Linked DNA regions of Homo sapiens. The protein of the gene in region 3 interacts with the protein of the main gene of each other region in a pairwise test. Each region holds a gene or a part of one and is shown on either strand. Other genes may lie near its edges.

Region 1 (7,441 bases), on a different chromosome or scaffold from region 3:
ATCTCTACTAAAAATACAAAAATTAGCCAGGTGTGGTGGCACGCACCTGTAGTCCTAGCTACTCGGGAGCCTGAGGCAGAAGAATCACTTGAACCCGAGAGAGGAAGGTTGCAATGAGCCGAGATCGCGCCACTGCACTCCAGCCTGGGCGACAGAGTGAGACTCCATCTCACCATCTCAAATAAAATAAATAAAATAAAATAAATCAGGTGCAGTGGCTCATGCCTGTAGTCTCAGGTACTCGGGAGGCAGAGGTAGGAGGATGGCTTGAGCCCAGGAGTTCAAGGTAACAGTGAGCCTCAATCACACCACTGGACTCCAGCCTGGGCAACAGAGCAAGACCCTGTATCAAAAAAAAAAAAAAAAAAGTGCCCCACCCTGGCTGGCCCAGTTCAGACCTCCTGCAGGAGCCTGGGAGCTGAGCCCCGCCCAGGCCAGGCCTCCAAGGAAGCGCCAGGATCGGAAAGGAACCGAGATTAGGGTTTCCCCAGGAAAGCAGCCTAGCCCCCGCCCCTGGGACCAGATAACCCGGGGGCTCCCACTCCTCCCAGTGGGGACCGGGCCTTCCCCAACTAGTGCCCTGAAGGTGCAGAGGCCACTCCACCACTTGAGGTCCAGTCCTGGCTCTGCCCTGCCCTGGCTGGGTGAGCCAGGGGTCAGGGCCTCACTAGAGACTTAGTTTCGTCATCTGTAAAATGGGCGGCTGCTGGGAGCAGATCAGAGCGCCTGGCATGACCCTGGCACTGTGGTTTCTGGGAGGAGCCGGGGGCTGAAGGCAGCACATGAGGTGCCCGCCTGGGCTGCCAGGGACAAACAGGAAGCAGATGAAAATAACTCGGCAGGAAGCAGGGCTGTCAGCGGCCGCGTGGAGGAGAAAACGGAACTGCCGGCCTGCAGGCCGCTGGGTCCCAGCACCTCCGCCGCCTGATGACCCCATCCTGCCCCTCGCCATGCCTCCTGAATCTCTCTCCACCCAGACCTCAGCCAACCCCCAGTTTGCTTCATTCCAAGACACAGATCTGCCCCCATCTGTCCTGTGCTCTAACACCTTCTATGGCTCCCCATTGCCCTTCTGCCTGGCGTTGTCATGCCTTCATCCTACACCAGCGGCACCCCACACCTTGGCCCCCAAATGCATTCTCTGTTTCCGTGTTTCTGAGCCTGTGCATGGGACATTTCCTCTGCCTTTCCCTCCTAATTGCCATCAGATCCTTTAAAAAAAATAAAGTGGGCACCCTCTTGAGCCAGTGTACGCTCAGGGACTCCCCCACCAAACTCCTACACATCCCTCAGAGCCTTAGCTGTCATGGCCTCTTCCACACAGCCCTCCCTGCCATCTGAGCCTCCCTCCCTTCTGAGCCTCCCCAAGTCCCTCCCTCCATCCTCCCTTGGGTCTGGCTCTGTCTTCCACCCAGGCCTCGGTGTCCCCGTGGCTCTCACCGTCACGCAACACACACTCCTTAAGTTTCTCAAGGCCCTCAGCGAAGCGGGCCACGTCCGCCAGCAGATGGGAGATGTCCTCGACGACGTCCGGGCCGGCACCCTCGGTGGGCAGCTCGCCCGGGCTGGCGGCTGTCAGTGGGCTCCGGTGGCTCCGGCCCAGTGTCCAGGAGGCAGCACCCGACAGGGGGAAGCCAGCCGCGCTGGCGTGGCGGCTCAGGCTGGTGGGCCGCTTGAGGGTCCCTGTGGCCTTGACGCCGGAGGACCCAGCGGGCGGCTCCAGGCTTGGTCCGGGGAACACCGCGTCAGCCCCATCCTTCCTGGGCAGCTCCTTGGGCAGGTCCGAGGGGAGCTCGTTAAAGGGATTTTCCGGCCTGGACACGGCCTCAGTTTCCCCAGAAATGAAGTGGGGCTGTGGAGGGCCACCATCACCCTGACCCCACAGGGGTCAAAGGCCAGAGGTCACAGGGCCGAGATTTGGTAGTGTACCCCCCCACCTGTTACCCAACATCCTCTTCCCTAGAGCTTTCACAAACAACGGTCCTTGCCCAAACCACAGCCGGGGCGGGGCCTGCGGGGAGGCGCGGGAGGGGGGTCCCCACTTCCTGGTGGGGGTGGGGAGGGTCCTCAGCCCTTCAAGCCCCCCTCAGGCTCCTACAACGCAGGTGCTTTAAGTGAACACACTTCTGACTCTGTCTGTCCCCTAAAGGTCCATGGAACCCCAGAGCCTATGGGCAGCCCCAGGCCTTGTAGACATCCCGGACCCCCAAGCTCTGTAGACCCCCCCCCCAGCTTTGTAGACACCCCAGGCCTGGGGACACTCCCCAACCTCTGAACCTGGTGGATCCCATTAGAGGATCTGCTGCCCGGTCAACCTTCAGCCCAATGGCCAGGCCACAGCCCTCCCATCTCAACGGCCCCTAGAGCCCCCAGATTGCCTAAGCCCCCAACCTGCAGCGGCCCAAACACAACATCGTCCCAACCCGGCACCCTCCCTTCCTGCTCCCTGGGCCCCGCGGCCAGCCCTGGATGGAGTGGAGGGAGGCGGCCACCACTCCCAGGGTCCCTACCGTGAGCTGAATGCCGGGGTCCCGGCCTCTCTGCTGTGGCCCCTGCCGTCCCGCCCGGTAGGGGCTGTAGCTGGCACGAGCCCCCAGCCGCCGCCCCAGCATGAGCCCCGAGCACAGGGCGGGTCCCTGTCCCCCTGCGGCCCGGCGTCAGCTCCGGGTCTCACCCGGGCTCCACTCACCCCCGAGGGCTGCGGGCTGGGGCTTCCCGCGCGGTTCTTTTTCGAGATGGAAGGGGTTTTCATGAGCTCTCGTTTCTTCCTGGAGAACATGATGGGGCCCCGGCCGGGAGCCCGAGGGGGCGGGCTGGGGGTCTCAGCGCTGCAGCTCCCGGCGCTGGCCGCTTCGGGACCACATTGTCGCCGGCCACCCCCTCCCCAGCTGTCAGGCCCACGTGACAGGCCCGGCCGTCACTGGCGGGCCCTCCCCCCAACAGGAAAAGGCTTCGGGGAGGCGGCGACGCGGCCTCGCCCCCGACCCTTCCCGGCCTCAGCCTGCGGCTCTGCGGAGTGGGCGCGAAGGTGAGGTCGCAGGCCCCGCCCCCAGCCCCGGGCCGCGCCCCCCGCTTCCGCCTTCGGGAGCTCGGAGCCGCGCCGCTCGCGGGGTGGGACCGGGAGCCCCTGCCTGACGCTGGCGGGCACGGGGCGGCCGACTGCAGGGCGCTGACTCTCACTCCCGGACGCGAGTGGGCGTGCACAGACACGTGCACGATGACACGCAGAGACCCGGACCTCCACACGCGCTCAGACGCCACCAAGCCCCTGGAGCCTCGCCCTCAGACCCCAGACACACGCACAGGCCGAAGCTGCGCCCCTGCAGCCCCCTTTTCCCTGAAGGCAAGCCCGCTCCACCGCCTCTCCTGCAGACCCTAGGGTGTGGCCGGGCCCCAGCAGGGCCGGGCAGAGTAGGGTCCCCCCCATCACCCGCCCTGCAGCCCCGTGAAGTGGGTCAGGTCGAGGACAGGTGGGGAAACTGAGGCCCAGAACCGAAACCCTGGGGGCAAAGACGTCCAGGAAGTCAGAACAATCCAGGTTACCGGGCCCTGTCCGTCTGGGTCCCCACGTCCGTCTGGGTCCCCACGTCCACCTGGTCCTGGGCTGCCTGCACAGGGGTCCCCAAAGTGTGGTGTGGACCCCACCATCGGCAGAATATGCTGAGGACACCTGGTTACCTCTCAGCAGCCCTGTGGGCCATATCATGTTGCCCCAGACCTGCCCTTAGCTAAGGTCCCCAGCCCCGCCTCCCAAGCTGCATTCCAGTGACTCTGGACCACCGGACGTGCTGGGCAGCAGGACGCAGGCACCCGTTGCTGATAACAGCCTGAGGCGGCATTGGCCAAGAGCTGGGGCATCTGCAGGCATACAGATCCCAGCCTCCTACCTTCCCCCAACCCCCACCCCGCAGTGTGAACTCTCTCCCCCCTCCCCAAGTCTCCCTGCTGTCCCCTTCCAGAACCCCACCCCCAATCCCAAAACCCCAACCTCTTTCCTTTCCCAAACCCCATTCCCACCTACCTCGGGTGGGAGGGGCAGATCTCTGGGGCACAGGACATGAAGGCCACAGCCCCTTGCTCCAAGTCTGGCTCTCCAGGCCCAGGTCCAAGTGCAAACCCAGCCCAGCAGACCCTTGAGAACTCTTTGCCCCCGACTCATGGCGCTGAGGGCTGGGGTCAGAGGGTGAGGGTCAGCTGGATGTCGGATGGGCTTCTGGCCCGGCCCTGGCCTGTGCTCCGGGACACCGGGCTCCTGTAAGCTTCCCAGGACATTCCTGAGTCCTGACCTCATCCCCACTTTATGGCCAGGCACTTACAGGTACCGCCCTTAGGCGCCAGCCCCACATAGGCACGCAGGGACGTGGGGACAGGGACGGTGTGACCAGGCCCTTATGAGGCCCGCACTCACATCCCCAACTCCTGGGCTGGCCACAGAGGCATTTACAGCTGGGATCCGGTCAGCTGTAGGCACGCTCACACCTGTGTCCTATGAATCGCCACTTGGCCCGTATGTGCACACTCAGCTTGCAAGGGGCCAGCCATATCCAGACGCATGTGCAGGCAGCTGTGTGGACATGTGTGCAGCCTGGCTCAAGGACACACATGCACACGGTTTCACCACCACGGCTTCTCTCCAGCCTTCTCTTTATTTTCTCCAGGGCACCAGCCCCTCTGCCAGCCTGAGTCCAGGGCTCCTAGGCACTCTACCTTGCCCTTGCCATTCCCAGGGCCTCCCCGCGGCCCCGCAGGGGAGGGAGGCTCAGAGCACAGTCTCGGCAGTGCTAGGGTCATCGAGGAACTGGCTGACGCGTTTGGGGTGCTGCAGGCCTGGCGCGGGGTCCACTCCCACTCCTGCCTCCTTCTGCTCTTCGGTGTCCTCGTCCTTCCCCTGGTCCTTGGAGAAGTACAAGAATACCTAGCGGTGGGCAGCCCAGAGGGGACAAGAGGGACGGTCAGCCCACGGGCCTGGCCCCCAGCCTGCCTCCCCCAGCCCGACCCCGGCGCCGTGATCACCTCCTCCAGCATCGTCTGGCTCACGGAAAAGTCCTCCACGCCGTGCTCTGCGCCGTGCACCGCCAGCTCTCCAAAGACGCGCGCCAGGGCGCAGCGCCCTCCCGGCGGCAGCTGGAAGCGCAGGCGGCCTCCATGTGCCTCGCGCAGCTCCGCCCCAGGGAACTCGGCCGCCACGAAGGCCGCTGCCGGCTGGGACCTTGCGGCGGGCACCCGCAGGGTCAGTGTGTGACCCGCCGCGAATCTGCAGTGAGTGGGGCCAGGGCTACCGGATCGGGCCTTTCCCAGGTCCCACCTCAGCTCACCCTCCAGCCCCTAATACTCTCTGGCCCCGCCCCATACTTGTACTACCCTAGCGATCAAGTGGTCCTCCCGTCTCAGTCCCCCGCCACCCCCCGCCCGCGTAGCTGAGACCACAGGCACACACCACCATGTCCAGCTAATTTTTAAATTTTTTATAGAGATGGGGTCTCCCTAGGTTGCCCAGGTTGCTCTCGAAGCTATCACCCCACTTGACTCCTTTTTCGGACACTCCTCTTTCGCCCTTGCACTCTACCCCCGCCCACACAATAAATACCCCCGCCCCACTTTCCTATGGCCCCGCCCACTAACCAGGCCCTCCCCTAACTCCACCCATCAATCCACCCTCACCTCTCCAGGCTGCACCTACTCCAACGCACACCTGATTGTGTCTTCTAAATCCACCCAGAGCCCCCGGCTCACGCCTCCTGGTCCTGCGCCCCCAGCACACCCCAGCCTGTCTCGCCCCCTCAGTCACCCCTGCAGGACAATCTAAAGCCTTGGCCATCTCTCCAGTTGGAGCCAAACTTTCCTCACCCGGCTCTACGTCTGGCCTCTCCCCTGAGCCTACCTACGTGCCCACCCTCACCCCACACCTGCCTGGAGGCCGCGCCGGCTCACCTGCCCTTGAGATGTTGCGGGCTGCCCAGGCAGCGGAACCGCCCATTCACCATGATGGCCAGGCGCGAGCAGAGCGCTTCACACTCCTCCATGCTGTCGGGACCCGGCACCACGAGCTCCGTGAGGCCGGGGCCACCTGTGCCTGGCGCCACACTGCCTGCTTCCCCCGGCCTGGGCCACCCTTCTGGTGTGGACATCTCCCCACTCTTCCCCAGACCGTTCTGATCCCGGCGCCGCGTCCCACCTCTGTGTGTCCTTACACCCCGGGGCCTGGCGCCCTCGCCCCACTAGGGCCAGGACCCCCCATCCCCTGTGGCCTTGTGCTTTGGGGCTCTCTCTCCAGGCCTGGATCACCTTAACCACAGCCCAGGGCATCAGAGCCCGGCCCACCTATGGGAGGTGAGCATCACTGAACGGCCCTCCCGCACCACGGCCAAAAGGCTGTTCCAAAGGAAGCGCCGCGCGCTGGGGTCCATGCCTGTGGTCGGCTCGTCCTGGGGAGCACGGAAGATCCCATAAGCAAGGCCCCGCCTCCGTCGCAGGCCCCACCCCACCCAGGCACCGCTCCCACGCACCAGAAACACCACGGCTGGGTCCCCAACCAGCGCCAGGGCCGTCGCCAGCTTGCGTTTGTTCCCTCCGCTGTAGGTGCCTGCAGGCCGGTCTGCGTACCATGAGAGTCCCAGACGCGCCAGGCCCGAGCCAGCGGTCTGTGGGGTGGGGCCAGAGTAGGCATGGGGACTCATATTGATGAGTATGGGGCAGGGCCACAGTGTGGCGGGGCCAGCATTGAGTGTGGAGCAGGGGCATAATGGGCATGGGGCAGGGCAAATGTGAGAATGGGACATAGTGTGGTGGGGGCAGCATGAGTATGGGGCGGGGCCATGGTGTGGGTGGAGCCAGCATGAGTATGGGGCGGGGCCATGGTGTGGGTGGAGCTGGGATGGGTGTGGGGCAGGGCCATAGTGTGGGTGGAGCCAGCATGAGTATGGGGCGGGGCCATGGTGTGGGTGGAGACAGCATGAGTATGGGGCGGGGCCACACTGGTGGAGCCAGCATGAGTATGGGGCGGGGCCATGGTGTGGGTGGAGCCAGCATGAGTATGGGGCGGGGCCACACTGGTGGAGCCAGCATGAGTATGCGGCGGGGCCATGGTGTGGGTAGAGCCAGCATGAGTATGGGGCAGGGCCATGGTGTGGGTGGAGACAGCATGAGTATGGGGTGGGGCCATGGTGTGGGTGGAGCCAGCATGAGTATGGGGCGGGGCCATGGTGTGGGTGGAGCCAGCATGAGTATGGGGCGGGGCCATGGTGTGGGTGGAGCCAGCATGAGTATGGGGCGGGGCCATGGTGTGGGTGGAGCCAGCATGAGTATGGGGTGGGGCCTTGGTATGGGTGGAGCTGGGATGGGTATGGAGCAGGGCCATGGTGTGGGTGGAGCCAACATGGGTATGAGGCAGGGCCAGAAAGGGCATGGGGTGGGACAGTGTGAGGGTGGGGCGGGCCAGGGC
Region 2 (6,170 bases), on a different chromosome or scaffold from region 3:
CTGGAGGGGCCACTCAGGGATGTTCCTAACTGGTGTGGTGTGGGGCTGGGGATGGAATATGGCAGCTAGATGTTGTCAAAGGTCATTATAGTTCACCTTAAGTTCTTGCCTTTAAATGGCTTTCTGAAAATCACCAGAAGCATGAGAGATCCAGTCCCTGTACCCTCTCCCCCCTTCCTAATCCCCTAGCCATGGCAAGCAGAGTGGGGATGAAGGAATATATCGTACCCCTGACTCAGTTCTGCCTGGAGGCTCCCTTCCCATCAGCCTTTCAGCAGAATGGAGATTAGGGGAATGCGTGTGGATTTACTCTCATGAGTGTGTCCCATCTTTACCCCTTCGGAGTTGGTGGACAGCCCAACTCCACCAGTAGGAGGAAGAAGCAAAGCAGCAAAGGGCTTTAGGTAGTGGACATACCACCCAGGCATGACAAAAGGGACTCTGTGGAGCACACACTTCAGGAACTGTTTTTGAACCCCCCCATTTATGACTGCACCACTTAAACACAGACAAGAAGCTTTGTTTTGAGAATTAGGACAGTTTATTGTTTGACCAACATGCTGAGTCTTTTCCACATTTTACACAGTTTAATGTGAAATCAACATGGCGGCTATGTCTTCTGAGCCCATAACAGATGGAATTGCCACCCTCTGTGCTCCTCACAGCCAATCACTTTAAAGGGATGGGTGAGGGGAAAGTGAGGGGAGAAGTGGACACACACCGCGAGATGCAGGCTGGCCTTCAATGCTATGGAGGCTTCCCACCTCCTGAAGGAACCATCTAAACCCCTGCTGCAAGGATTTCCTGATGAAACCACACACTGCTGGGAGTGCCAACCAGACAGGGGTCTGGAGTCCAAGGAGTTTGCACATTGAGATCCCAAGGTTTTGGAACACCTAAATAGTTCATGTCAAACAAAAATTCAAAGGGTGTCCTGATCTGTGTGGGTGCCCATGACAATCAATCAGAGTAGACTTGGGGACTGGCCCTTGTGCAGTAGAGGAGCCCAAAATACCACCAATATTCTCACTCATATGCTGGGAAGAACCTAGTGTCCTAACCAAAAAGAGTAGAGATGGTCTGAGGAACACACCCACACACAGCAGTCCTTGCTGTGTAATAAATATGGAGTCACATTTGTTCACACACAGGGCAGCAATGGATGAAAAATGGAAACTTCACTGGTTCTGATCACTCCTAACTTGCTGGGTGATCTTAATAAGCAAGTTGCCCTTCTCCATCCTGGTTTTCCTGCCTGTAGACAGGAAAAGTTGTGACAGCTCTGCTTCACATAGCTGTAACAAGGTGACAATGCCTCACATTCTTTGGGGAGAGGCAGTTCGGAAACGAGTGTGCGCACAATCTGCTCGGTTGATGCACACAGACATCCTTCTGTTCAGCTGCCCCTCAAGTGGCTCAGACATGCCTCACTGTCCTCGGCTACCTGGTCCCATCTCATCCTGACATCCTCACCTGCCTTCCATCTTGTGAAGGAATGAGGCTGCTCTACCTGCAGGATGCTGAAGCCAGGAGGGCCATCCCTTTATTGTCACAACTGGTATCCCAGGGCAGGGCCTCCCCGCACTGGCTAGCCACCAGGATGATGCAGACGTTGCACCCCAGATGTGTCTGCACTCTTAACTACCACCATTTCAATCCTTGTTTCTGTTGCCAGAGATACTGAAACTGGTCTGGCCATTGCTCCCCTCAGACCTGGGAACATGACTGAATGTTTAAGGATGACAAGAAGAGAGCAGCGATAGATAGCAAGGAGGCCTCTGACCAAGGGAAACTGCTGCCAACAGCTACCAAGCCAACTAGCCTTGGATCACACAACTGCAGCCATGGTGCTCATGATTCTGATGTCACACCTTCATGTTGATGTATGTATGATCACCCAGCAAGTTAGGAGTGATCAGAACCAATGTGTTTCCACTTGTAAATAGGCTGTTTGCTTTTTCCATCTTACACTCAACTTTCCTGATGCCTGCAGAACAGGAGCTTTGTTGATAAGCTTTTAAGATTCACCCCCTTCACTCCCACCATCCCCAAAAAAGAAGGCCAAGAGGATCCTGCTAATCTGCCAGGTCACGTCTAGTCTTTGGGGAGAGGGACTGAATTGCTCAATTGAGAACATTTCCTCAAAGGAATCCTCCAATTTGCCCTCTGCTAACCCATCTGGATTCAGCAAAGATGCAATGCTCTTGCTGGGGTGCTGAGGCAATGCCATGACATCTTCTTCAAGAGCACCTAACAGTTTATTATGGAACCTTAACTCTGTGCCAATTCTACCTGCAAGCAAGGGGACAGGGATGGTGCCTGCTCAAGACAAAAATCAGGGAACCAACAACTTCTGAAAAAGAGGTCTGGCTGCCTTTCCACACCCCAGGAAGGGAGGGGCGGAAACCGCACGTGCCGAAGGGAGCGCCATGGAACCACTGAGATGGGAGGATGGGAGGAAGCCACCCTCAGCCTCAGAGGCCAAGGGGCTGGGGAGAACCCAAACTCAAAGAGAGGATGTTGTGTGCATGCTAGGAAAGGCAGGACTCACTAAGGCCATGTCAAACCAAATGCTATCTTTTACTGCTCCTCTAGGCCAGGATGGAAACACAGTCCACGGTGCCTTGGATGTGTGTGCCCCTGAGAAGGGAACTGAGTTTCTACTGTTTTATGGGATGTTTTTTTAAAAAAGCTAATCTTTAGTGCCAAGAAAATAAAAATCTACCATACGTTCATTCACTGAGACCCAGTGCAGATTCCTGTAAATGGGGCGGTCTCAGAGGCCACAGGTGATGGCCCCCGCTGCCAACCAGGCAGGACACTGTCATGTGGACTCCTGTAAATTCTCTCGAGGTAAGTAAGCACTCTTCCAACAAGCACCACTTGGGGGTGTGCCCATGGTGGGGGGACACTGGCCCACACAGGCATGCACACCCGTGCATATAAAGTACATAGAGAAATGGTGGAGATATTCCCGTGGGCTATGTTTGCCTGTAGTTTAACACAACTATGCATTATTTTATTGATGGCAAGACAATCACAAGTTATTTGACAATATTAAGTATTTCTTATTTCAACACGTTGCAGTACTTTTGAATTTCCAAAACTTATCACAATGCAAGTTCCAACTTGAGAGCAGGAGAAACAAGAATATACATTGAGCACATGTATCTCCGTGAGGATGTGTTTGTGGAAGGTGTATACACAAGTCTATCTCTATATATAATTATGTACACACATATAAAAACTAAACACATGACATCTGAAACACGTTCAAACATTGGTCCTTGCCTTCTGCAAGAGGTGCTCAGTGGGATCCTGCTTCCTCTCTTCTTCACCTGAAGATAAATTCCTTGCTAGAGATGAGCTCTGGCATACAGCCTCCTAGGCAGAGGGTGTGTGGCAGGCCCACTGCACAAATATCAGTCCTGCCAGATTCTGCTGCACTTACTGCCTGCCATTTCAGATTAATTTCTGAGAAGTTTCAAAATTCATTCCAACGACCTTGTGGAGTTCAGCCCACCATACCCCAGATGGTCATTCATCCCATCTATGACATGCCCAGCAGCAGCCTGGAGGGAGAGCCAATGACAGCAGGGAGGGTGGGGTTTACATTTTGGCCAGACTCACTGCCCATTGCACCTGGCTCTGTGCAGGCTCAGGGCAGTGAGTCTGAGTCTATTTGGAATGCTGGCCAAGTAGGTTATATCACTTAGTGGGAAGAGAGAGTTCTCTTCAGAGACTTTGCAGATTCTCAGGACTAAGCCATTCTCAGGAATGAATCAAAAATGGAAGAGATGGCTCTCTGGGGGCAAGCAGCCTTCTGGAGACCCCACCTGAACCACATCCTCAGGTGACCACAGCGCAGCCACAGTAGCCACAAAGATATGTCCACAAAGACTTCAACTGCGCCATGCCACTGGGGTGAAAACATAGCAACAAATCAGCTTTTCCAGAAAGCACTCAACAATATTAGCAGCTGAGGCTCTAAGAACATGGATCTTTCAAGGTGGTGGTTCTGCAGACAACACCCCCCCCCCCCCCCGCCTCCCCATCACAGAGGATCAACTCCAGGTGGTCCAGCTTCCCTGACATCCAGGAGGAAGGCTTCAGGATGGCACACTGCCCAACATCACACACTGAGTTTCTTAGACTTGGCCCAGGCATGTGTACTGACTGCTGGGTGGGCTGGTTAAAATATTTTCAGAAGTACACATGGCACCCCAGTCTATAAACCACGCACCACGCAGCTGCAATTGCCAACAGCACCTCGTCCTTCTGATGGCCTCTTGCTCTGCCAGTCCCTGAGGGCACAGAGAACACAAGGTTGCCTGTACCCTCAACCCCCTTCAAGGCTTTTCAGGGAAAGAGAAGGAGAGGTGGGAGCAGTTCCTCTGGGGGCTGCTGCCGGGCTGCCTAGAGCCCACAGACCTTGGTCTCAGCTCCACACGAGGTTGACGACCCACTCTGGCCATGGAAAGACAAGAGTCAGAGCTACCTTTTCAGAGGCTGATGTGTTCAACCAATGTTTGATTTAACTGGAGTAGGGCCTAGAGAGTGGGGCCAGATGGCCCCAGACTGAAGCCTAATTAATTTGCTCAGTTAATTGTTTTAATTTATTGGGCTGGGGATAGGAGGAAGGCAGAGGTGATGAATGGTTCAAAGAGAACAGGAAGGAGGAGGTGTGTGGAAAAGGTTCTCTATAAGTTTACAAATATACAAAAACAAAAAGCACATCTTTCAAATAAAAATGACTACATTTTTATCTGGCAAAAAATTGTATACACATGATTTAAATTTTTTTTAAATTTTAACAGTTTTTGGCAATCTTAATAAAGTACAATATATTACAACCAAACCAAAAAATAGTTGTTTAAGTAACAGCCGTTAAGAGTGATGTGATCCCTGATGCCCAGCCTCCCTCCCCATCCCACCCTACTCCTAAAGACAGAGAGAAAAGAAAAATCCTCCCATCTTGATAACTCGGTTCCCTCCCCCCTTAGGAAGCTAGCCAATAGGAAGCAACACAACAAGCAAGGAGTGTCATGGGAAGCCACAGGTCGGCTCTGCATTAGCAGGAGCAGCCGCCCTCGCTGGCCGGGGGCTCCTGGGGTTTGTCCAGCTTGATGTCGATCACTGCAGGGGGACGGGCTAAGGAAGATGACTCTCCTGGACAAGCTGCCACCCCACTTAGCCCTGTGCACTGTACCCTTTGGCTACTGCTCTGTTTCTCTGCAAACACCTAGGGACTTGGCTCTTGGTTTGGCTGGGCTAGGAAGGATGCAATACCAACTCCACCTTGCCTCCTCTTCCCTTCACCCGTCCACTTCCCCCAGCGCCTGTCCACCCAAGCAAAGCCTGTCTTGCCTGGGCCGTGGGATCACCATCTATACCAAGGCCAGGGAGTCCCTTTCCCAGAAGCCTTCCCTCGACCAGTGCTCAAATGCCAGCTCCCAGCCCTGGCCTCAGCCCAGTTACCTGTCAGCCCCACTCAAAGTGCAATGGAGATGAAGAGCCTGCTGGGTTCACATCTCAAAGCACAGGGGTATGTGGGCCTTGCCTAATTGGCAGCAGGAGCAAACCCTTCAAGCTTTAGTCAGAACACATCACTTAGATCCTGAGGATGGTTACTGTAAGAAGCCACATCCATGGGGCCTAAGCACAGCCCCCTCGCCAGCCCTTTCCACTGGTGCCCCCGGGGGCTGTGGGCTAAAGAAGCACTTATCAGAACCACCACAGGGACTGGTTCCAAATGCACAGCCAGGCTGGCCCTCTGCCTTCCTCATCGGGCTCAAAACCAACACTGTGAGATTTTAGCCTTGCATCAAACCAGACCTAATTATAGCTGAGGATCAGGCCCTTTGATACCTCACAGAATTGCTCTTCCTGGACAGGGATTGCCTTAAGACAGGGGTGTGTGGGGTGTGGTGGTATAAGAAACACTGTTTTGGAACTTCTTGCTGGCATCCTAAGGATGCTTTTGTGGCTCCTATTTGAGGACAACAGGAGAGGTTCTTTTGTTTTAAGTACTATGAAAAGCCATGCTTCTCCTGAAGTTCACATTCTCTTTCCTTGCCTTGGCTGTGAGGATGCTCAGAGCCAACTTTTTGGCCACCTCTAACAACCATGCGGCCATGGCATACATTTTGAGTATGACTTTATCTCTGACT
Region 3 (7,022 bases):
AGCTGAGAAGGATGTATGTCACCTCAGGACCCTGTAATAATTGCATTAACTGCACAAATTGTACAGCATGTGTGTTTGAGCAATATGAAATGTGGGCACCTTGAAAAAAAGAACAGGATAACAGCAATTGTTCAGGGAACAAGAGAGATAACCTTAAACTCTGACCACTGGTGAGCCGGGCAGAACAGAGCCATATTTCTCTTCTTTCAAAAGCAAATGGGAGAAATATCACTGAATTCTTTTTCTCAGCATGGAACGTCCCTGAGAAAGAGAATGCACACCTAGGGGTAGGTCTCTGAACTGGCCCCCCTGGGGCATACCTGTCTCTTATGGTCGAGATTGCAGAGGTGAGATAGACTCCAGTTTCCCATAGCGCTCCCAGGCTTATTAGGAAGAGGAAATTCCCGCCTAATAAATTTTGGTCAGACCAGTTGATCTCAAAACCCTGTCTCCTGATAAGATGTTATCAATAACAATGGTGCCCGAAACTTCATTAGCAATTTTAATTTCGCCTCGGTCCTGTGGTCCTGTGATCTTGCCCTGCCTCCACTTGCCTCATGATATTCTATTACCTTGTAAAGTACTTGATGTCTGTGACCCACACCTATTCGCACACTCCCTCCCCTTTTGAAACTCCCTAATAAAAACTTGCTGGTTTTTGCGGCTTGTGGGGCATCACGGAACCTACCGACATGTGATGTCTCCCCCGGATGCCCAGCTTTAAAATTTCTCTCTTTTGTACTCTGTCCCTTTATTTCTCAAGCTGGCCGACACTTAAGGAAAATGAAAAGAACTTACGTGAATATCGGGGCATGTTCCCCGATAATTATCTTAGGTCACATTTTAGGACACCCAAGGAATCCCCTAGGCTTATGGACATGCTTGTCATCAACCAGCCCTTACACCCCAGCATGTTGTGAGGGTGGTACTGAGGGAACATGGGTGTGAGGAAGAAGGGCAGAGCAAAGCAGATGGGGAGCCCAGGCAGCAGGCAACACATGCCTGCAAAGCAGCTGCGTCCTGGGCCTGAGCCCGCCATGATGCTGTCACTAGAGGGAGAAATTGATCCACCTCCAAGGGCGTCAGGAATGCACTGGCCTAAAACAAGGAAACTGAGGCCCAGAGAGGGGAGAGACTGGCTCCAGGTCACAGAAGTCAAGCCAAGAATGGCTGAGTCCACTGCCATGCTAGTAAGAGTATGAGTGGTCCTCACTATGACCTCAGCACCCTCAATGGTAGGACAGTGACAATACTAGTTCCTCCCTTCTGGTTTAGAAGGGCTTGGCATCTACACCCACTAGATGACAACATCACCTCAGGTGGGCAGAGCTCCACAGTAAAGGCTGGGGCGACAGATGAACCAGAATAGGTGATGACAATGCAGCAATGCAAGAGCCAAGCCATGATGCATCAGCTGAAGGAGGCACCCTGGCTACTTTTTTTTTTTTTTTGTCTGAGACGGAGTCTCGCTCTGTTGCCCAGGCTGGAGTGCAGTGGCACGATCTCGGCTCACTGCAAGCTCCGCCTCCCGGGTTCATGCCATTCTCCTGCCTCAGCCTCCCAAGTAGCTGGGACTACAGGTGCCTGCCACCAAGCCCGGCTAATTTTTTGTATTTTTAGTAGAGACGGGGTTTCACCGTGTTAGCCAGGATGGTCTCGATCTGCTGACCTCGTGATCCGCCTGCCTCAGCCTCCCAAAGTGCTGGGATTACAGGCGTGAGCCACTGCGCCCGGCCCCTGGCTAATATTTTAAAAAAGAAAAGAGAGGCCAGGCACAGTGGCTCACGCCTGTAATCCCAGCACTTTGGGAGGCCGAGGCAGGCAGATCATGAGGTCAGGAGTTCAAGACCTGCCTAACAGGATGAAACCCTGTCTCTACTAAAAATACAAAAGTTAGCCAGACGTGGTGGTGCACGCCTGTAATCCCAGCTACTCAGGAGGCTCAGGCAGGAGAATCGCTTGAACCCGGGAGGCAGAGGTTGCAGTGAGCAGACATCGCGCCACTGCACTACAGCCTGGGCAACAGAGTGAGACTCCGTCTCAAAAAAAAAAAAAGGAAATAAAAGAGAAAGACAAGAGTAAGGTGTCTGGCAGGGGCAGATAAAGTGGGAATCTCCGCCTACCGGCACCCTCCACAGCATAAAAATAGAGTAGCCAGGGCTAATGCCAGTGCAGTATGAAAGGGGACAGGACAGGCCACACATGGCGCTGTCTTTAAAATGACAAGGTCTGTAATCCTAGCACCTTGCTGGGCCGAGGCAGACTGATTGCCTGAACTCAGGAATTCAAGACCAGCCCGGGCAACATGGTGAAACCCCGCCTCTACTAAAATACAAAAAATTAGCCAGGTGTGGCAGTGTGCACCTATGGTCCCAGCTACTTTGGAGGCTGAGGTAGGAGAGTTGCTTGAACACAGGAGGCAGAGATTGCAGTGAGCCAAGATCACGCCACTGCACTCCAGCCTGGGCGACAGAACGAGACTGTCTCCAAAAAAAAAAAAAAAAAAAAAAAAAAATTGAGAAGGCCTTCAACCAAATGCAACCTGCAGATCCTGCTTGGCTTCTGAAGAAACAAAGTAACTGTAAAATGAAATTTATGAGCCAAACTGGGGAAATCCAAACACTGACTGGACAACAGATGACACTAAAGAATTTTTGTTAGTTTCTTAGGTGTGAAAGTTCAACAATGGTTAAGTTTTGTAAGAAAAGATTCTATTTTCTATTAGCTGGGCATGGTGGCAGGCGCCTATAGTCCCAGCTACTGCGGGGGGGCGGGGGGGAGCTGAGGCAGGAGAATGGTGTGAACCCAGGAGGCGGAGCTTGCAGTAAGCCGAGATCGCGCCATTGTACTCCAGCCTGGGTGACAGAGTGAGACTCCATCTCAAAAAAAAAAAGAAAAGATTCTATTTTCTTAGCAAAACAACTGATATACTTACAGACACAGCTACACAGGATGAACTGCGGTAGAAACAAGACCGGCCACAGCTGCAAACTGCAGGTGCAGGGCAGGAGCATACATGGACTCACTCTATTACTCTCTCCACCTTTGATTATGTGGAAACATCCAACAAAGAAGGTGGCTTTAAAAAATGAGTAAAGGCTGGGCGCGGTGGCTCACGCCTGTAATCCCAGCACTTTGGGAGGCTGAGGCGAGTGGATCATCTGAGGTCAACAGTTTGAGACCAGTCTGACCAACATGGTGAAACCTCATCTCTACTAAAAATACAAAAATTAGCCGGGCGTGGTGGTGGGCTCCTGTAATCCCAGCTACTCGGGAGGCTGAGGCAGGAGAATTGCTTGAACCTGGAAGGCAGAGTTTGCAGTGAGTCGAGATCGTGCCACTGCACTCCACGCTGGGCAACAGAGCTAGACTCTGTCTCAAATAATAATAATAATAATAATAATAATATGAATAAATAAATAAATAAGTAAATAATGAGTAAAGCAGCCAGGCGCAGTGGCTCACGCCTGTAATCCCAGCACTTTGGGAGGCTGAGGCAGGCAGATCACCCGAGGTCAGGAGTTCGAGACCAGCCTGGCTAACATGGAGAAACCTCGTCTCTACTAAAAATACAAAAATTAGCCAGGTGTGGTGGCGCGCACCTGTAATCCCAGCTACTCAGGAGGCTGAGGCATGAGAATCACTTGAACTCGGGAAGCAGAGGTTACAGTGAGCCAAGATCGAGCTACTGTACTCCAGCCTGGGCAACATAACAAGACTCCGTCTCAAAAAAAAAAAAAAAAAGGCTGGGCGTGGTGGCTCATGCCTGTAATCCCAGCACTTTGGGAGGCCAAGGCAGGCGGATCACCTGAGGTCAGGAGTTCGAGACCAGCCTGACCAACATGGAGAAACCCCATCTCTACTAAAAATACAAAAAAAATTAGCCGGGCATGGTGGCACATGCCTATAATCCCAGCTACTAGGGAGGCTGAGGCAGGAGAATCGCTGGAACCTGGGAGGCGGAGGTTGTGGTGAGCCAAGATCGCGCCATTGCACTCCAGCCTGGGCAACAAAAGCGAAACTCCGTCTCAAAAAAAAAAAAGCAAACTATAGATCAGGCGTGGTAGCTCACATCTCTAATCCCAACACTTTGCAGGCCAAGGCGGGAGGATCGCTCAAGCCCAGGAGTTCAAGAGCAGCCTGGGCAACACAGTGAGACCCTGACTCTACCAAAATAAATAAATAATAATAATAATAAATTAAAAAGTAAAAAGCCAACTATAAAAAGCAAACCATGACAATTATTTCATATAGTAACACAACAGTATAAGTTAGAAGTACCACAGAACCTCTGGATCCACAGAAACCTTCCTGTCTTTATCTACTTGAATTAAACCTGCTTTTATGTATCTCAGAGTAGCAACAAACTAACTTTAACAAAAAACAACTATTACAGATGCACAAAGCCTTTCCCCTGTGTTTGATGGTGTCTTGTACACATCACACACTCACAAGGGAAGAAGAGCTGGCAGAGAGAAACACCCAGTGCTCCCCACATTTGTCCTGCGCCATCTACACAGGTCCTATTGACACTGTTCTCTCCACTTTCTGCTGTTCTTAAAGTGAATGTATGATTTTTTAAAACACAGTAGCTTCTAAAAAAGAAGCTGGGCCCCCAGTGACCTCCTCCTAACCCTAACCCTGGCCTGCAATGCTCTGAGGGTGGCAAGGGGAGCCTGCCTGCCACTCAGTCCCCATCTCTCCATCCACCTCCCACAGCAGAGCAGAGCCCAGCTTGGGACAGCAGGGTTTGAGCCCAAGGAGGCAGCTAGGCAGCCACATTGGGCCCTCTCCTGCTCCAGAGTTCGGCTTCAGAGGCCACACTCTGAACACTGGACAACACAGGGTCTAAGGCCAATGCTTTACCTGTCAAAGCCTGCATAGTCCTGGCCAGCCCTGGCCACCAGCCACCACCACCTCAAACAGCTGGTGTACTGTCTGAGAAGAAACCAAATCTTTCTTACCCCCGATGTGTGTAACAGTTTCATCTGGTCCACCTATGTGGGGAAGCAGGTCTGACTGACTGGGGGATGCCCAAAACTGACAAAGAAGAAACTGATCTCCTCCCTCAAAGGAAGGGACTGTGGTCCCTAAGTGACAGGGGAGACCTAGCAGGAATCCTATATGGACCTGGGCCGGATGCTCAGACACAAGGGCACAGGGACACCACTCCCTGACCTTGGGGGCTCACAGAGCACTGGGCCAAGGTAACAGGCATCATCATTAACCTATCACGGCCCAGACAGGCAGCGGCTCATCCAGGGCCGCAAGCTCCTGGGAGACCAGGCAGGGCCCAGACTCCCCCTGTGGAGTCAGTATGGAGTTCACAGGGACAGACATCATATACAGTCGGTCCTGCTCAGGTGGTGCCAGGCACCCCCAGGGGCCCAGGGGCTCCCAGCACTGGGCCTGGCCTTCCTCTGGATCCACCTGCTAAGCCACAAAGCATGCTCGCTTGGCATCCCCAAAGACGAGCTGCTCCATCACAGCTGTGCCTGCCTTGAATCCCATGGAGGGTGGCCAGGTCCACGCCTCCACATGCTGGCAGGGCTGGCCTGGAGCACACCATCCGCATGCCTAGGGCTGGGCAGATTCCCTGGCCAGGTCCCAGGATGATTGAGATACACAAGTGCCCAGTCGCCAGGCCCTACAGGAAGAAACAGCACCAGGGCTCGATGTGGGAGTTTCAGACATTTTTAAAAGTGTAAGGGTCCCTAAAGATTCCTTCATGACCCCCTGCCCCATATTCTAAAAGTGGGGAAAGAGAGGCCCAGCGGGGAGAGAATTGCCCAACAATTAGTGACAACAGTGTAGCCACATGGTCATCATCTTTGGATGCCTATAGCTGCCTCTCCCCAACTGTCAGACCCATCTGTGCTTCAGGTATTCACAGGGCCCCAGCTCCCACCCAAGCCAGGCTTCCTCATACCAACAGCAGACCACTGCCACCACCCAGCCCCCTGAAAGGCCCTTGGGTCTCCCAGAGCCTCCTTGCTCCCAACAGCCTTCTGTTCAGAAATGGACACAACAATGTTCTCAGGGGTTATCAGACGAATGGGAGAATCCCACACTTGCTTTAACCAAGACCAGGACTTTTCCTGCTCTGGAAGCAAACAATCAAAGAGGCTGGGCCTCACCCCCAGTAACTCTGCAGAGGAACCTCCTGGAGGGTCCTCTGCCAATCACCCTATTGCCCCCACTTCCTGCAGCTGCCCAGGTGCTGGGAACAGGGCTCAGCAAGTCCAGAAGGCAGCAGGCAGGGGAATTTTAGAGACACCCAAGCTTGAAGGGCAGGTGGGACTTCTAAGACAAAGGGTGAATGTGGGCACAGGAGAGGTAGGGCAGTCCCAAGCCAGGCTGTAGGGGCCTGAGACAATGCTTAGGGCAGCCCTTGGGAGGTGGCAATGGAAGCCACTTGAGACTGAGCAGGGACAAGGATAAGAACGGGGAGAAGCTGCAGGTGCAGCAGCAAGGAGACAGAGACCTGAGTGAGGCATGAGATTCAGTCCGCAGAAGACCTACGAAGCACTTGCTGCGTGTTGGGTGCTGTGCCCAGTCCAACACCCAATTCCACCCACGTGCACCTCTCAGACAAGGACAATGGTGCTCCAGAGCTTGACACTATGACACCAAGGTGGCACACCAAGGCAGTGAGGGTGTCCAGACCTCCTCTCTGAGCCTGAGCTCAGGTGGAGTCAAGACTGTTCTCAGACCTCCCCCATTACCCTCCCCTGACCATGAGGACCACATGGGCACCTAGCCTTAGCCCACCTAGCTACAGTCCCTGCCTGTGCCCTGAAGGCAGGAGCTGCCACCTCAGCACACCTGTCCTCTTAAAGCTACAGCTAAGAACACAGAACAAAGTGTCTCACGGCCACGCAGGACCAGGAACACCAGGTTGCTGACCAAAGCCCATCTAATTCTCTTCCCCACCATTCCAGGGAGAGGAAGGGAAAGGGCACAGTGGGAACGGGGACAGATATGGTCTTAACTGAGTCAGGCTCAAGAAATCACTAGCAGAA

Evidence for each region. Proteins that work in one complex are often made in the same cells at the same time.
Region 1: the proteins of BICD2 (region 3) and ARHGAP45 interact in binary tests that used the Homo sapiens proteins (3 or more experiments, as listed by UniProt).
Region 2: the proteins of BICD2 (region 3) and RAB6B interact in binary tests that used the Homo sapiens proteins (3 or more experiments, as listed by UniProt).

Annotation. Positions count from the first base shown.
Region 1 is NC_000019.10:1,062,744-1,070,184, reverse strand, and holds the start of ARHGAP45 (rho GTPase-activating protein 45 isoform 1 precursor), read right to left. Parts: upstream 3,019-7,441; 5' UTR 2,780-3,018; coding exon 2,690-2,779; exon of another isoform or gene 2,613-2,689; coding exon of another isoform or gene 2,511-2,612; intron 1,772-2,510; coding exon 1,441-1,771; intron 1-1,440. Other genes in the region: phospholipid-transporting ATPase ABCA7, read right to left, coding at 4,760-4,915, 5,014-5,254, 5,932-6,024, 6,322-6,425, 6,507-6,641. UniProt on the Homo sapiens protein: Contains a GTPase activator for the Rho-type GTPases (RhoGAP) domain that would be able to negatively regulate the actin cytoskeleton as well as cell spreading.
Region 2 is NC_000003.12:133,823,717-133,829,886, forward strand, and holds the end of RAB6B (ras-related protein Rab-6B), read right to left. Parts: intron 5,137-6,170; coding exon 5,072-5,136; 3' UTR 519-5,071; downstream 1-518. UniProt on the Homo sapiens protein: The small GTPases Rab are key regulators of intracellular membrane trafficking, from the formation of transport vesicles to their fusion with membranes. Rabs cycle between active GTP-bound and inactive GDP-bound states.
Region 3 is NC_000009.12:92,754,825-92,761,846, forward strand, and holds part of BICD2 (protein bicaudal D homolog 2), read right to left. Parts: intron 1-7,022. UniProt on the Homo sapiens protein: Acts as an adapter protein linking the dynein motor complex to various cargos and converts dynein from a non-processive to a highly processive motor in the presence of dynactin.